2 linked regions of the Homo sapiens genome follow. Changing the gene in region 1 together with any one later gene gives a genetic interaction. Each region holds a gene or a part of one and is shown on either strand. Other genes may lie near its edges.

Region 1 (3,657 bases):
AAAGTATTCCATTTTCTGAGTTGACACAATGGCCCTCAGGTTGCCTTGAATTACTTATCTTCCCTATTATTAGTAATAGTAGTAGTAGTATTATACTTTAAATTCTAGGGTACATGTGCACAATGTCCAGGTTTATTACATATGTATACATGTGCCATGTTGGTTTGCTGCACCCATTAACTCGTCATTTACATTAGGTATTTCTCCTAATGCTATCCCTCCCCCATCCCCCCACCCCACGACAGGCGCTGATGTGTGATGTTCCCAGCCCTGTGTCCAAGTGTTCTCATTGTTCAATTTCCACCTATGAGTGAGAACATGCGATGTTTGGTTTTCTGTCCTTGCGATATTTGCTCAGAATGATGGTTTCCAGCTTCATCCATGTCCCTACAAAGGACATGAACTCATCCTTTCTTATGGCTGCATAGTATTCCATAGTGTATATGTGCCACATTTTCTTAATCCAGTCAATTACTTATCTTCTTATATGTACTTACTGGTTCTTCTGCTTGAAGCCCAGTATCTGTGTTAATTTGTATATCTCTATATTACTTTGTATCAACAAAGCACCATGTTCATAGCAGATACTAAAAATATTTGTTGATAATGTCACACCACCAAATGGATAAGCTAAGGGTAGCATAGCTGACTTTCTAGAAGAGAATGAAGTAAGCTTTATTTTTATATCAAAGTTGCTATCAGTTACCAGGGAGATGCAAACCAGTAAAGGGTCATACTATAATTGTTGCTAACACTTGAATTCATCTCTTTAGACTTATTTTCCCTCATATTTCATCATCTGTTCCTTTTTCTCTTCCTCTTCATTATTACAACACTTTTCTTTTGTCTTTCCTTATTCAATGACCTGATTTGTCAGTGATCAAATTCTAAAAATTTCCCTCAATCTGAACTTCTAGTGAACTTCGATCCATGTTTATACTGAAATTTCAGATCCAAAAAGTCTTTCCTTTACCCCACCCTCCTTCACTTGGTGCAGTGTAGCAACAGGTGCACCTTGGACCGTAATTGAGGAACTTTCACTGGACTCTTGTGAATTTGCACCATCCAGTGGCTGAAATTGCTAACTGCATCCTCTGAAAAAAGGCAGTGGGCACAAATAAAAAAATGTAAAATGGGGGCTGGGCGCGGTGACTCACTCCTGTAATCCCAGCACTTTGGGAGGCCGAGGCAGGTGGATCACAAGGTCAAGAGATTGAGACCATCCTGGCTAACACTGTGAAACCCCGTCTTTACTAAAAATACAAAAAATTAGCTGGGCGTGGTGGCGCGCGCCTGTACTCCCAGCTACTCAGGAGCCTGAGGCAGGAGAATCACTTGAACCAGGTAGGCGGAGGTTGTAGTGAGCCGAGATCGCACCACTGCACTCCAGCCTGGGTGACAGAGCGAGACTCTGTCTCAAAAAAAAAAAAAAAACAGTTTGGCCTCCTCTTCTAGCTGTTGTGGTATCACTTTTTTTTTTTTTTTTTTTTTTGAGACGAAGTTTCGCTCTTGTTGCCCAGGCTGGAACGCAACGGTGCAATCTCAGCTCACTGCAATCTCCGCCTCCTGGGTTCAAGTGATTCTCCTGCCTCAGCCTCCCGAGTAGCTGGGATTACAGACATGCGCCACCATGCCCTGCTAATTTTGTATTTTTAGTTGAGATGTGGTTTCTCCATATTGGTCAGGCTGTCTCGAACTCCTGACCTCAGGTGATCCGCCCACCTTGGCCTCCAAAAGTGCTGGGATTATGGGATTACAGGCGTGAGCCACCATGCCCGGGCTTTTTTTTTGAGACAGAGTCTGGCACTGTTGCCCAGGCTGGAGTGCAGTGACACGATCTCAGCTCACCGCAACCTCAGTCTCCTGAGTTCAAGCGATTCTCCTGCCTTAGCCTCCCGGGTAGCTGGGATTACAGGCGCCTGCCACCATGCCCAGCTAGTTTTTGTATTTTTAGTAGAGACAGGGTTTCACCATGTTGGCTAGGCTAGTCTCGAACTACTGACTTCAAGTGACCCACCCACATCAGCCTCTCAAAGTGCTGGGATTACAGGCGTGAGCTACTGCATCGGGCTTTCATCATATCCTTATGAAACGCTTATGAATTAGACATTATTATTTTCATTTTACATAGGAGGAGAAAGGAGATGCAGGAAGATAATAACTTCCCTAAATTCTTTTTTTTTTTTAGATGGAGTTTCACTCTTGTTGCCCAGGCTGGAGTGCAATGGTGGGATCTCGGCTCACGGCAACCTCTGCCTCCTGGGTTCAAGCGATTCTCCTGCCTCAGCCTCCCAAGTAGTTGGGATTATAAGCATGCACCACCATGCCCGGCTAATTTTTTATATTTTTAGTAGAGATGGGGTTTCACCATGTTGGCTAGGCTGGTCTCGAACTCCTGATCTCAAGTGATCCACCCGCCTCAGCCTCCCAAAGTGCTGGGATTATAGGCATGAGCCACCGCACCAGGCCCTAAATTCTTAAAGGTGATAAGGAGTGGAGACAGAATTCAAATTCAGGAAAGTTTCAAAGTCCATGCTTGCTTTTTCAATTATATTAAACAATGCCAAGTTCCTTGCATATTCCAAGCATTTATTGGGCACCTGTTGGTTGCACAAGAGTATAGACTGCCTGTCACCAAATGATGCAAAATAATTTAGGAGCCTGTTTTGACAGTCACAAGATGGAGGTCCTGTACATTAGGCAGAAAAGTATGCAGCTAGGCAGCCTAGTAGGCATTTTAGAATTGTCTGATAAACCGAGCCACTTAGCAACAATATATTTCTAGTTCACCTAATTTTTTGGGTTCTGCCCAAAGGCTGGTGACTCATGAGACAGATATTCCGCACTCTGTGTACATGAGAAAGAAGTCAGTAAGGTGAGGAAGAAGCAGAAGAGATGGGTAACGAAGGCCTGGATTCACGAAAACTGTTTAATGGCCATGGTATTATGAAAATCCTGATGCCAGCCAACTCTTGAGTGTTAAATAATGAGAGTCAGTTTATTAGTTATATTTGGACAGATCTGGTTTTTTGCTTTATTTTTATAAATAATGTTCTAAGAAATTTATTTTATTTAATTTACTTATGGCATATTTAAACATTTTTTGGCAAATAAAAATTGTGTATATTCATGATGTACAACATGTGTTGATAGATGTACTCATTGTGGAATGGCTAAATCAAGCTAATTAACAAATCCATTACCTCAAATATATACCCATTACCGCAAATACTTATTTTTTTGTGTGGTAAGAACAACTAAAATCTACTCTCTTAGCAATTTTCAAGCATATATATATTTTTGTTTGTTTGTTTGTTTTTGTTTTTGAGACAGGGTCTTGCTCTGTTGCCCAGGCTGGAGTGCAGTGATGCAATCTTGGCTCACTGCAACCTCTGCCTCCCGGGTTCAAGTGATTCTCATGCCTCAGCCTCCTGAGTAGTTGGGATTACAGGCATGCACCACCACGCCTGGCTAATTTTTGTATTTTTAGTAGAGATGGGGTTTCACCATGTGGGCCAGGCTGGTCTCAAACCCCTGACCTCAGATGACCCACCTGCCTCAGCCTCCCAAAGTGCTGGGATTACAGGTGTGAGCCACAGTGCCTGGCCTCAAGTATATATTTTTAACTATAGTCACCATATAGTATAATAGATCTCC
Region 2 (2,860 bases), on another chromosome or scaffold:
GTCAAGTTGACACCTAAAATTACATCCACAATTCCACCCCTTATCAACTTGGCACCCAGACTCATCTCTTTAAACCATTTTTAATTTTCAAATGAAGACAATAACAAGGTCCTAGCTTTTCCTCACATGATGCAATTAACCAGACGCGACTATCCTGCATACAACTCAAAGAGTGCTAATCCTTTTGCCAGAATTCAGCTTTCAGAATTTCATCATTCAGAATTCAATCTTTTTTTTTTTTTTTTGAGATGGAGTTTCGCTCTTGTTGCCCAGGCTGGAGTGCAATGGTGCAATCTTGGCTCACCGCAACCTCTGCCTTCCAGGTTCAAGTGATTCTCCTGCCTCAGCCTCCCGAGTAGCTGGGATTACAGGCATGTGCCACCACGCCAGACTATTTTGTATTTTTAGTAGAGACAGGGTTTCTCCATGTTGGTCAGACTGGTCTCGAACTCCCGACCTCAGGTGATCCACCTGCCTTGGCCTCCCAAAGTGCTGGGATTACAGGCATGAGCCACCGCGCCCAGCCAGGATTCAATCTTTTGGAACTGTGATTTTCAAGATATTAGAAGTTCAGGCTTTGGACTTTAGAGATTTTGATTTTTTTATGATTTCAACATTGGGATTGTGGCATTTGGGATTGTCTTTTAGGATTATGATCAGCACTGGAGTAAAGCATGCAATTGAGCTATCTCTGAAAACTCAATGTAAATTTCCATAGTGTGCTTTGTACTAATTTTTGCAAAATTTTTAAGGTAATTGGAATTATCAATCTTCCACTAAAATAGCAATTTTTAAGTGGCTTATTTTAAATAGTTGCTAAATTTGCTAAAATCATGTATCTAAAACACTACGCATAATATATGACAAAAATAAATGCTGGGAAAAAAATAAAAGGATTTGTGGTAAACAAGGCTGACCAACCTTTAGTCTTAAGAAAATATCTGGCTGGGCGCGGTGGCTCACGCCTGTAATCCCTGCACTTTGGGAGGCTGAGGCAGGTGGATCATGAGGTCAGGAGATCAAGACCGTCCTGGCTAACACGGTGAAACTCCGTCTCTACTAAAAAATACGAAAAATTAGCCAGGCTTGGTGGCGGGTGCCTGTAGTCCCAGCTACACAGGAGGCTGAGGCAGGAGAATGGCGTGTACCCGGGAGGCGGAGCTTGCAGTGAGCTGAGATAGCACCACTGCACTCCAGCCTGGGCAACAGAGCGAGACTCCATCTCAAAAAAAAAAAAGAAAAGAAAATATCTGACGTTTACAACATCTAAATGTTTGCTACAAATTTATTACTAGAGAATACAATATTTAGGTAACATGAAGCAAAGAAAATATTTGACTCTTACGATTTCTAACTGTTGGCCATAATCTTCACTTTCTATGACCTTGATCAGTGGCTTGAGCTTTTCTTTCAGCTTCTTGCCTTCATTGACTGGAAGGATGAACCGAAGCCTCATGTGAGCACGTTCTATCTTCATTTTCTCTTTTAACTGCTTTATCACTTCCAAAGCCTACCAAGACAAAATCGAGAATGCAATTTCTTCTACTATATTATTTCATAAGGTTTTCAAAAACAAAGTAGTTTCCATGTAGTTGGATTAGGTAATGGTTTCTTAGGTATAACATTAAGAACATAAGTGACCGTTAAAAAAAAAATAGAAAAATTGGACTTATCAAGAAGAAAAGCTTTTGTGTTTCAAAAAACTATGAAGAAAGTGAAGGCCAGGTGTGGTGGCTCACGCCTGTAATTCCAGCACTTTGGGAGGCCGAGGCGGGTGCATCACAAGGTCAGGAATTCGAGACCAGCCTGGCCAACATGGTGAAACCCCGTCTCCACTAAAAATACAAAAAAAGAAAAATTAGCCGGGTGTGGTAGTGCACGCCTGTAATCCCAGCTACTCAAGAGGCTGAGGCAGGAGAATTGCTTGAATCCGGGAGGCAGAGTTTGCAAAAAGAGGGCGGGGGGGGTGGGCAAAGAACCTGAACAGAGATTTCTCAAAAGAAGACAGACGAGGCACCAATAAGCACATGGAAATATGCTCAAATCATCATTAAGGAAATGCAAATCAAAACCACGACAAGATACCACCAGGATGGCCATCATCAAAAAGGCAGACAATGACAAGTATTACTGAGGATGTGGAGAAACTGAACTCTTAAACACTGATGGTGGTAAAGTAAAATGGTGCAGCTGTTTTAGAAATAGGTTTGGTAGTCACCAGGTATACAGAAATGAAAACATATGTCTACACAGAAACATACAAGAAATTTTATAGCAGCATTGCTCATCATAGCTCAAAAGTGAAAGCAACCCAATGTCTATCAACTGATAGATGAATGAACAAAATGTGTTTCTTTCCGTACAGTGGGCTATTATTCCGGCATAAAAAAGAAATGACATGCTGATGCAGGTTACAACATGTATGAACCATGAAAAGGCCACATATTGTATGATTCCATTTATATGAAATGTCCAGAATTGAGAAGTCCATAACGAGAGGAGATTAGTGGTTGGGAGGGGCCTGTGGGGGGAAAATGGGGGATGGCTACTAATGGATACTGACTTTCTTTTTGTGGTGATGAAAATGTTCTCGAACCAGGTAGCAGGGAAGGTTCCAAAACTTTGTTAATATACCACTTAAAGTGTACATACTTTATGAGTGTGAAATTTATGGTATGTGAATTATATATAAATTAAAAAATTCAAAAAGAAGTGTTAAAATGACCCTTTAAAAACTCAAGTTTTGTCTTTAAAAGTTTGATTTGGATAGGAAGAAGAAAGTCCTATATACATATTTGTGTTTACTTGAAAAAAAAAAATTACCTATCTTTACAACCCCGTCCTTTTCCTCCATCTCTTC

The links.
Region 2: changes in ACACA (region 1) and SBDS together harm fitness less than expected from each alone (positive genetic interaction), as found in Homo sapiens cells (one large-scale study listed by BioGRID).

The regions. Positions count from the first base shown.
Region 1 is NC_000017.11:37,396,812-37,400,468, forward strand, and holds part of ACACA (acetyl-CoA carboxylase 1), read right to left. Parts: intron 1-3,657. UniProt on the Homo sapiens protein: Cytosolic enzyme that catalyzes the carboxylation of acetyl-CoA to malonyl-CoA, the first and rate-limiting step of de novo fatty acid biosynthesis.
Region 2 is NC_000007.14:66,989,792-66,992,651, forward strand, and holds part of SBDS (ribosome maturation protein SBDS), read right to left. Parts: intron 1,511-2,860; coding exon 1,346-1,510; intron 1-1,345. UniProt on the Homo sapiens protein: Required for the assembly of mature ribosomes and ribosome biogenesis.